3 linked regions of the Homo sapiens genome follow. The protein of the gene in region 2 purifies or fractionates together with the protein of the main gene of each other region. This does not show direct contact. Each region holds a gene or a part of one and is shown on either strand. Other genes may lie near its edges. The genes, in order: ZMPSTE24, TMEM196 and PCP4.

Region 1 (3,656 bases), on a different chromosome or scaffold from region 2:
GCCCGGCTTTTTTTTTTTTTTTTTTTTTTGTATTTTTAGTAGAGACAGGGTTTCACCATGTTGGCCAGGCTTGTCTCGAATTTCTGACCTCAAGTGATCCGCCCACCTCGGCCTCCCCAAGTGCTGAGATTACAAGCATAAGCCACTGCGCCTGGTCCAAATAGTGCTTCAATAAGCAGTTTTTCTGCTTAAATCAGCCACAGTTGGTTTCTATTGCTTGCAGAATTCTAATACAATGTTTAGTAGGTTCCTCAATATGTAATATAGCCATTAGAAGTCTTAATTCCCCACAAACCTACTCTTCTCCTATTTTTTTCCATCTCAGGAAACTACCATATATCTAACTGCTCAGGTCAAAAGTCTAGGCCATTATCTTTGATGTCACTCTTTCCCTTATTCTCCCAATGCAATCAATTAGAAAATTCAATCAACTCTACCCTAAAACTTGTCCCAAATGTATCCACTTCTCTCCATTAATTACTATTATCCTAGTCTAAGCTACCATTATGTCCTACCTAGACTTTTGCCTGTCTCTACAACATATTCTCCATACAGTAGCCCAGGATATTTTAAAAACACAAAGCAGATCATGTCACTTTCCTGTCTAAGCCTTCAATGGCTCTTCCCACTGAACTCAAAATCCAAACTCCTTACCCTGACTTACAAAGGCCTATGTGGACTGATTCTTGCCTATGTCTCAGATTTCATCTCCTAACACTCTCCTGCTATGGTGCAGCCACACTGGACTTCTTCATGGTCCTTGAACATCTTCCCATTGACGTCAAATGGGCGGCTCCTCCCTTTAGGTCTCAGCTCAATCTGATGACCAATCTACAGTATCAACTTATCAGACCAAACTAGTTTAATTTGCTGCATAGCACTTGCTATCTGATAATATTTTGAGAGCAAGATTCTTGGCTTTTCACTACAATCTCCCTACCAATTTACAAATATGTAATGTGTGTTGTTATTGTCAGCAACAACATTCATTCATTCAAAATATTTTTGAGAATTGTTACTGTTGTTAACAACAATTAAAACATACATTATAGGTGAGTAAACTGCTGTTTGGCAAAGCTAAGTTGCGCAAAGTCACACAAGTAGTTTGTCTCGAACTCCTGACCTTCCACCTCAGCCTCCCCAGTAGATGGGATTACAGGCTGGAGCCACCAAGCCCAGCACTGGTAATCTGTGGTAGAGCTATGATTCAAACCCAAGCCTTTTGACCCTGAAGCCTGACGTCTGAAATGCTGCCCCCAACCTACTCAAATCTTGACTTCCCATTAACACCCAGCTCAGGTCATAACCTTCCATAAAGCCTTCCCTGACTATTTTATCTAAAATGAAAATAGCTCTCATACTCTGGATGTTGTAGGGGGAAAAAAAAAGATAAAAAGAAAATAGCACCGATATATTTCACATATTCTATTGACTACCTCCACTGTCATAGCATTAACTATTATTTCACGTTATCTGATTGTAACTTAAGGGATCAGCAACTTAGGTTGCTCCTTCAGTAAAAGCAGCTTAGAGACTATTCTGTTGTACTGATTAATGATTAAATTTCTAGTTTAATATTACCTAAAAAAAAAAGAGTAGTTATTTCAGAGGCTAAAGAAGTAAGTATGAACTGGCTTATTCTACCATTTCTCCACAGACTTTTAAGCTACTCCAATCGTGCCTTTAGTTGGGCTGTATATCCTCAGGAGCCACTAAATGTCTGACATATATATATATATATATATATATATATATATTTTTTTTTTTTTTTTTTTTTTAGACAGAATTTGGCTCTTGTTGCCCAGGCTAGAGTGCAATGGCTTGATCTTGGCTCACCACAACCTCCACCTCCAGGTTCAAGCGATTCTCCTGCCTCAGCCTCCCAAGTAGCTGGGATTACAGGCACGCACCACCACGCCCAGCTAATTTTTTGTATTTTAGTAAAGACAGGGTTTCACCATGTTGGCCAGGCTGGTCTCGAACGCCTGACCTCAGGTGATCCGCCTGCCTTGGCCTCCCAAAGTGCTGGGATTACAGGCGTGAGCCACAGCGCCCAGCCAGATGTCTGAAATTTCTATGTTCTTCCAGTTGCTGTTGATTCATTCTTTTCAGTTGTGACCATCTCTGTTCTCCTCTAACCCTGTGATTGTTTCTGCTTCTATTCCTTCATCTAACACTGCTGCTTCTCACTGGTAATATTTTATTTTAGAGCAGGGATCAGCAAACTGTAGCTCACAGGCCAAATCCAATCTGCCATTTATTTTCATAAAGTTTTATTGGAACACAGCCACACTCATTTGTTTAGTATTGTCTATGGCTGCTTTTGCGCTATAATAGTAGCACTGAATAGTTGCAACAGAGAACAAGTGGCCCGCAAAGCTAAAATATTTACTATCTAGCCCTTTACAAAAAACATTTGTGAAACCATAGCTTAGAGGAAATACAACTGAAACCCAGAAGGGTGAAGTCACTTGTCCAAGATCCTATAACTGGTAAGTGGCAGGAACAGAACTATTACATTCATTTATATGGACTTTATAAATTCTGAAAGTCATAGAACCTTACAACAGTTTCTCTCTACATCTCCGTAGTCTTCTTTGAGACTTTAATAGTCAACTACCAAAGTCTCAAAGAAAGTAATAGACTGGGTGTTAATGGGAAGTCAAGATTTGAGTAACGGTCAAGAGACCACTTAAATCTCAAAAGTAATCATCAAAAAAGCAGAGTATAACAAATCTGCAGTACTCAGTGGTACTGCAGTCTTTGGTAATCAATCTTCAGGTGAGTCCTCCAGAACACTGGATATTTTCTTGGAGGAGACAAGGCCAATAACACTGGCTTTGTTTAAGAGCCTCCAAACTAATACTAAACAGAATTTGACTATTCAAGAGTCCAACTTAACTACCTAAAAGAACTAGGCAGATAACAGAAGTGAATAAATCAGTCTAATATATAAGATAACATAACAGAGAGTGAAAAAGCCTTGGCCAAAAATTTAAAACAATACTGTAAAACCAAACAAACATAGCTGCAGACAAGAGCAGGATTTGGTATCAAGCCACCAGTTTCTATCCCTGGCCTATGTTATCAATTTCTGTAAATCTTAAAAAGCCAAAAGGTAAACTCCTAGCCTTTAAATAACAAATTTTAAAAAGAAAAAAACAAAAACTGATTAATTCTTTTATTAAAATTTTAAGAATAAAGTATCAAATAAAACAAACCACTTGGATAAAACTTTCTTATCCCCAGGTAGCCTTACCTTCCACAACATACACCTTCGTCAAAGGAAAGTCAATACTCTTTGCCATTACTTCAATTTCTTCTTTAAGCTTTCCCTCAGGCAGAGGTGTGAATTTGTCAAATAAAGGGGCAATATAATCAGCATAGATTGTGACAAGAACCTGAAAAGTAAATGTCAGAATAACATATGAACATGTTCTTAAAGAAAAAACATTCTTTATTATACAGATTAAATTATATTAAAACAACTATGTTGACCTCAAACTTGAGAACAAGGAACTTACTTGCTCTGGTATTCCCAGGCCCAAATAGTACCAGATAGTAAGAGCATAATATCTGTCTGATGAATTAAATTGAAATGAGTAGTCTGATAACAGAGTAAACTTATGAATTTTATTTTAAAGGATAATGCTACT
Region 2 (3,656 bases):
CATAATCAAATGCATCTCCTTAATAGAACAAGGGAAGAGCTAGAAAAGGGAATTCATGCAATTTCTAAAACTGGCATTATTGAGTGGAGAGTGTATTTAGTATCTGTGTTTTTCCTCAGTATAATACATAAAAATCCATATTTATAGGGTATTCAATATTTTATGAAATACTATTTTAAGCACTGTGTTTTTGAATAGACAGACTACAAAATGTTGTTGAAAATAGGTGTACCCATGAATTGCAGAGAAAAATAAAATAAAATTTCTATTCTTAACCCAATAGAGCCAAATGTATAAAATCTGATTCCTCAAATTGTGATCTAAAGTTTCAAGTTGATTCACCCAGAGTGGACTTCAGTCTTCATCATGTGCTAGCAGTGAGAGGAAAAGGTACAAAACTCACTTTCTCAGCCATTTCATGAGAGTGATGCAGGGAATGCTCCCTTTCTGAGAACATCCTCCTCTGTTCATAACTGGCTAGTCGACAAGTGAGCCAGGAAGAGAGAGTGCAGCCCCCGATCCCAATGCACGCGAGAGACATGGAGGCAAGGTGCAGTGGGTATAGGGAGGAAGTTTTCTTTGTGACTGCCCGGAGGAACTGAAAATTCAGGATGCCCCCAATAAGTCCACAGATACAGCAGGCTGAAAAGAGGATCATCTGATAAGAAAAAGAAAGGCAGCGTTAAAGTTGAAAAGGCAAACCTGACCAGAACACAGTTGCCCTGTCCGGCTGCATGTCAAGGATGACTAGCCTACAATAAAGAAGAATAAGCGGTTTTGGTGCTTCACAGAGGACAGGAGATTTTTTTTTTACATTTTATTTTTGCCAAGTTTCTATTCACTCTGACTCACAGTAGACAGAGGGAGTATACCACAGTGTTTCAGAAATTGATAGCTGACTATATTAAAGCCAAGGATATAGCTTATGAAAACTCTGAAGCAAACAAAATTTATCGTCTAGGTAGATTCAGATTTAAATATTTATTTAACATCTACCGTGTGCTACCATGCTAGGAACTTTAACAAATATCATCTCAATTGACACTCCCAGCAAGCCTCTGAGATAGTAACATACGTTTTAGAAAAATGAATGGTCAATAGCTAACACTAAATTTAGGCACCAAACCCAGATTTTTCTGATTCCAAATCTACTTTCACTGTGTCAGTCCTTCAAAAATATCTCAATAGCTTCTCTTTGGATTGTCATTAGTTCCACCTAACTTCAAATCTTTATATCTTCCTACCTATGTGAGCTTAGGAAATTTAGTTAAATCTCTTTTTTTAAAAAAAAGTTCACTCATATTTCATTGTGCATGTATTTCCTAAGCAAGTACTTTAGGGACTCCTATGAACTGACCCCTATATATTACAAATATTTTATTACTTTGTGGCACTATCATCATTGAAGAATATACAATAGGCGTTCCAAAAATACTGTTCGTTTGTTCGTTTTAGAGAAACAGATGATGTGGCTTTGCTTTTGGTCCTACTATTGGTTGAATCTCGGTGTCTATTAATAGAGCTAGGGGGGTTTAATCAACAACTATCATAGGATCCCTGGCAGAACCAAGAATAATGCTTTCTGAGAAGTAAGTACTTTGTGAATATTTAATAAATTTAATTAACTAGTCAAATAACTTTAATAATTATATTTTCTTTTTGCATCTGGTCTAAATTCTTCTATGGGCTTTCATGATACTTTGTACTATGATACTAATTGAATTATGCAATCTAATTTCCATTCTTCTCGGGAACACAGACTTATTCCAGTCACCTCTCTTGTCCTTCAATATGGGTTACTCATTCCCACATCAGTGACATTTTTCATTTCCTGGAAATAATTTTGCTTCTTCCTTAGACTCATGGATGAAAGGCACAAATTAAGTCCTAACTTGGACTTTATTGATCTCCTCCTTTGTTGTAATTCCCCAGGTCAAACAGCTTTGTAACTCACTTTAACATTTAATTTTATTTTATCAGATATTATTTTTCATTGACGGTTGAGTTTAGCCTGCACTTATTGAGCACTTAGCATCTGTTAGCCCCTGAGTGCAGCAGCTGCTGGCATTACAATCAATCATTCATAATAATTCCTCTTGAGAATAGTTAAATCTTGTGAAAGAGAAGATCCAGAATTTTAACATGGCATGATAAGTATTAAGAAAGGGATACATGTGTTGCCCTAGGAGTAGGGAGGAGAAGAATTTAGCCCAGCCAAGATTTTTGGAGAAGGCTTTCTTGAGAATATGTCAGGTCAGTAACTACAAGTAGTTAATTTCATTTCTTCAACTTAATTCAGCATTCCTTATTGCATCTGTAAATATCATCAGAGCTAAAAATCCAATAATGAACGGGTAAAATCTTTTTATACTTGATTAAATATAATACTGAAGATCAGTTACCAAATAATTAAATCATCCTACTAAGTGTAAACTTGTAGCTCAAGATGCCTAGTAGAATTAACCAATTATATTTTATTTTAAAGTAGATTTGGATGTCATGCTGTTCTTTGGGGATATATTTTGGTGTTTACTCATTCTCTGAAAATACGGAAAGATATTAAAATCTAGCTTCAAATAATTAATTATTGTTATAGAGAAAGCAGACAATACCTTTAGTTTTCTGTTACAGGAAAGCCCATGTCTTTGCTGATGTCATTCTGATTAATTCTTTAAAGGCATGACACCTCATTAACATGTGTTAACAAAACAATCTTATCCAGGAATTAAAATGTTTAAATCTGTAACCATATACTATTTTCAAATTTCACCAGGTTGGAGACTCTAGACTGCAGATATATTTGGAGTGAAATTTTTTTTTAATTTCATTAAAATGTAGAAAATATTGATAGTTAAATGCCATCAATGGGGACCTTAGAAAGTACACAGGATAATGTACCTTCTAATAGTAGGTACAGCTACCACCTGGGCGGTAGTTTCTTAAAAAAATCAGATTTCATCATTTTTTTCCTTGTAATTTATAAGAGAAAGACAGAGAAGTGCCACTATTGCCTTTGTATAAAACAACAACAACAAAAAGCCTCTTCCTTCCTTTTTTATTTTTTCCTTCCCTCCCTCCTCTTTCTTTCTCTCTCTCTTTTTTCTCTTTCTCTTTCCTTTTGTCATGCTTCCTTGCTTGTTTACTTGCTTTCTCCCAAGGAGTTGTTCCTACATAGTCATAAAGAGTCTTCGTAGAGGAAGGGCATAAGGAGAATGAAGACCATGTGTAAAAAATGATGGGAGAATCATAAATGCAAGTTACAAGCCTGAAAAAATACATTTTTTTCTAAAGGTTTCATTTTTCCCTTTATGTAATTTTTAAAAATTACATCTAAAATTGCTGTCTAAAGCAGTGAGGGCTTTAGCCTTTTTGCCATAATAGATGTTCTCACGAAGAAAGATGTGATTAGAAAAAGGGGTCAAATAAAAATAACTGCAATGCTTCCCATTCCCTGATCTGCTCAGATAACTGGCCTCACCTTGGAAAACTCTCTTTAGGCTCAAAGGGTACTTCCTAGGGTCCCTGTGTAGTATTAATTTTGCCAATTTGTGTCTATGTTCTTTCCCATAATACTTGGTAAAATAAACCACACTTTTTCCTTATTTCCAAACCCTTATGAAAAATCATGAAAGGCGATGGGGAATCCACACTTCAGC
Region 3 (3,656 bases), on a different chromosome or scaffold from region 2:
AAATGTTTTTTAGATTACTTCTAGAAGTTTTTACCCTCATCTTTCTTGGGCTGTTCCAGTTTTTGTCTTTGCTCCTTTTTAAAGGCAAAAGCACAGACTTTAAATTATAATAAAGTATCACGTACAAATATCATATATAGGCAGTTTTAGCTGAAATTAAAGTATAGCATGTTAATAATAATTTACATTTATACATTGCCATTATCCAGTAACTGTAAAATAATCTCAAATTCACTTTTCTACCCAAAAGTGACTATCATTTAATATCTAGAATTATCTAATGAAAAGCCTTATTCATAGCATCAGGAATATTTCCATTTAATTAATTTTTATACCTCCATAAAAAACCTCACTCAGTTTCCACTGGTGTGGACTGGTTTTCAGCTAAAAGAAATTCCATGTCTTTGAATGGCAGAAAATGGCATCACTTATAGTAGCCGGTAATTCCCTTTGGTGCAAAGCACTGAGCATGTCAGCATGGTTTGAAAGACCAATAGGATGTCAAGATAAAGCCAAGGGGCAGAGACATCGAACACATAGGACCTAGTCCTGGCTTCGTCACCATGTGCCTGGTCTTCAGGCTCCTCAAGGCATGACATGAGACATGCTGAGCAGTAGTTCCCAAAGTGTGAACCAGGTACCCTGGGGGGTGCCTACATCCTTTAAGGGAGCCCAAAAGATCAAAAACATTTTTGGTCTTATAAAAGATATTATTATTATAAAAGGTAAGAGTTTGATCTTAAAGGATATTATTTGCTCTTTTAAATCTCATACTCTCACAAGTGAGCAGTGGAATTTTCCATAGGCTACACATCACATGATATAACAGATTGAACACAGAAGCCAGTATGAAAATCCAGCTGTCCTCTGTCAAACCAGACTTTAAAGAGAGTTGCAGAAATGTAAAATTGCCACTTTTTACTAAATATCCTTTTCCATTTTGGAAAATATAATGACTTTTCATTTTTTAAAATGTTACTTACATTCACATGTAGTGGGTTTATTATTTTATTTTTAATAAATTAATAAGAAAAACCATTTAAAACTTTCTCCATTTTAATTTCTAATATAGGAGACAGTGTATGGCAGATACACCTGATATCAATAGCGTAACTTAAGCATACCCTGAGAATGACCCTATGGTCTAAGAAGAATGTGTGCTTGGAGTCGAGTTCCGAGCTAAGGAATCTGGGAGTGGCCAGTATAGAGATTCATTCTTATCTATGAGGAACATCTGAATTCCCAGCCCATCCCATGGGATGCAGGCCATACAGGGGATTGGGGACATTTGTTTTGGAATGAATGTAGATTGCCAAGTAGAAGTTGCTAGAGGGAGGGTGCTAAGTGAAAACGCTGTGTAAACTGCATGCTTGTTACAGGCAGCTGTGGTTCTTTTATCCAGCCCACCGCCACTGGACTGCCCTATAGGTAACTCCCCTCAATAAATCCTATGTCTTGTTCACTGGCTCCAGGTCTTTTCTTCAGTACCATCTCTATAAGAGTCAGTAGGGTTCCAGCATGACAAACATCAATAGATATCACCAACATAAACAAAAGTTCTTTGGGGTCCTCAAGAATTCTTTAAAATGGAAAGGAGTTGTGAGAACAAAAATGTTGGCTGGGTGCAGTGGCTCACACCTGTAATCCCACCACTTTGGGGGGCCGAGGCGGGTGGATCAGCTGAGTTCAGGAGTTCGAGACCAGCCTGGCCAACATGGTGAAATCCTGTCTCTACTAAAAATACAAAAATTAGCCAGGCGTGGTGGTGGGTGCCTGTAATCCCAGCTACTCAAGAGGCTGAGGCAGGAGAATCACTTGAACCCTGGAGGCAGACGTTGCAGTGAGCCGAGATTGTCCCATTGCACTCCAGCCTGGGCAACAAGAGTGAAACTCTGTCTCAAAAAAAAGTTGAGAATCACGACAATAGAGGATCTCTGAGAAGTCTTCTGACTGTAAAACTCTAATTCTAAGGTTGTGAGGTTCAGTGGAAAGGAACTTGCATGAACAGATGGCTACGAATGTATGAACTGGGAAAATCAGTGGAGGCTCACAGCGCCCTATGCTCCCCTATGGCAGGCAGTGGGTCCTTCCTCATATAGGCAACTACAATATTGCTCCTCCCTTTTAAGCCCCATCCTTTGCTCCTTCCTCTGCTTCCTGCCTTCCTTGCCAGTACCCCACACACCCACCCCAACTCACACACAGGAGACAGGAAAAGCCCTGGGCAGCAAAGGAAGAGCCATTGGCCTCATGGAAAACCTTGTTTCCTTCTTCTCCCAGCCCCCTAGCTCCAATTAGGACATTGTGGAGCCCCCACCTCTCTACTTATTGATATGATGACCCCTTTACCCAGGGAACACTGCACTCACCCTGCCCAATAGGACTGCCCTAAATGGGTGGGCATATTGGCAGGCTGCAGACGCAGAGCAACATTCTCATACTTGAGTCTTGCTCAGCTCAGACCCACCACAGAGGCTCCAAAGGGGTTGTGAGGCCCCAGGGAATTTTAACCGATGGTATTTGAGATTGGCATTATCCACAATCTGATTGATGGACACTAGCATCAATTTCATCTAGTTGGAAGCAAGAGTCATTTTCCATAAAAGGAGAGTTCATCTTGAGTTAACAGAAAGGAAGAACACCCAGAGTCTCACCTCACCGGAACTATGCTGTGGCCCTTGGTGCATACCACTGGGTATTTTTTATTATTATGCTTGTTCTTATGTCAATTGCTAAAGTTAGAGACCTGGGGTTCCAACTGGCTCTATTTCCTTCAGGATCCATGCACTTCCCATTTCTAGCTAAATCTCACCCCAATGCCAAGCCTCCATTTCCTGATCCATAAAAATATGATGATCATTCCTACAATTTAGGGTCATGGTTGAGATGGGCCCATGAAGAGGCAGGATGCAATGTTCCTGTCACTGCTATCATTTTTATTTGCTGGTGAATCGCTGCAGTGACATTCACTGACTCAGCACCTTCCAGTGGACCAGCACCGCATTGTGTGTGCTCCGGAGGGCTGAAGCAAGTTTTAAAACATCATTTCAGAAGTTGTGTACTTCACAGTTTTCAAATCACTTATCTCGTTTGATCTCATTTTATCCTCACAACAACTTGGATGATTCTCACCCACCCTAATGAAGAAAGCAGAGAACTAGATTTGCATTGTAATTACCATGTTGCCCAAAATGGGAGTCCTCCTATGGAAGGGAAACTTCTTATCACGGCATTTAGCTAGCTCAGTTTTCTTCATAAAACCAGACCTCAGTGCTCACTGTGAATTGCTAAAATCCTCTGTAAGCTGAAGCGCAGACACATATAGTAAGCTGTTTGGGATGGGATGTATGATCCGCACCTGCTGCATACCCAGGGCTGCAGATGGCAAAAGAGAAAGAACTTGGACTATTCATGTCCTCTTACCATTTTCACCAGATGTCTTGTCTTTTCCATTGGTTGCCCCAGCACCTTGTCGCTAAAGGCAAAAAATAAAAGAAAAAAGCAATTGTTATCAGATATACTCGGGATTACTTTTGTCTCTTTTATTGTTGCAAACATCTCTTGCATTATATCAAGTTCTATGTTACTTTAGCTCAGATGGCTAAAGCACTGTGCTAGTGAGAGTAGGAATGGATCCACCAAGAAAGGATGTACTG

Evidence for each region.
Region 1: the proteins of TMEM196 (region 2) and ZMPSTE24 purify together in Homo sapiens (affinity purification with mass spectrometry; one large-scale study listed by BioGRID and IntAct). This does not show direct contact.
Region 3: the proteins of TMEM196 (region 2) and PCP4 purify together in Homo sapiens (affinity purification with mass spectrometry; one large-scale study listed by BioGRID and IntAct). This does not show direct contact.

The regions. Positions count from the first base shown.
Region 1 is NC_000001.11:40,271,639-40,275,294, reverse strand, and holds part of ZMPSTE24 (CAAX prenyl protease 1 homolog), read right to left. Parts: intron 3,402-3,656; coding exon 3,260-3,401; intron 1-3,259. UniProt on the Homo sapiens protein: Transmembrane metalloprotease whose catalytic activity is critical for processing lamin A/LMNA on the inner nuclear membrane and clearing clogged translocons on the endoplasmic reticulum.
Region 2 is NC_000007.14:19,725,111-19,728,766, forward strand, and holds part of TMEM196 (transmembrane protein 196), read right to left. Parts: intron 659-3,656; coding exon 404-658; intron 1-403. UniProt on the Homo sapiens protein: Acts as a tumor suppressor in lung cancer. Inhibits tumor cell growth by inhibiting cell proliferation and migration and promoting cell apoptosis.
Region 3 is NC_000021.9:39,898,295-39,901,950, reverse strand, and holds part of PCP4 (calmodulin regulator protein PCP4), read right to left. Parts: intron 3,476-3,656; coding exon 3,424-3,475; intron 1-3,423. UniProt on the Homo sapiens protein: Functions as a modulator of calcium-binding by calmodulin. Thereby, regulates calmodulin activity and the different processes it controls.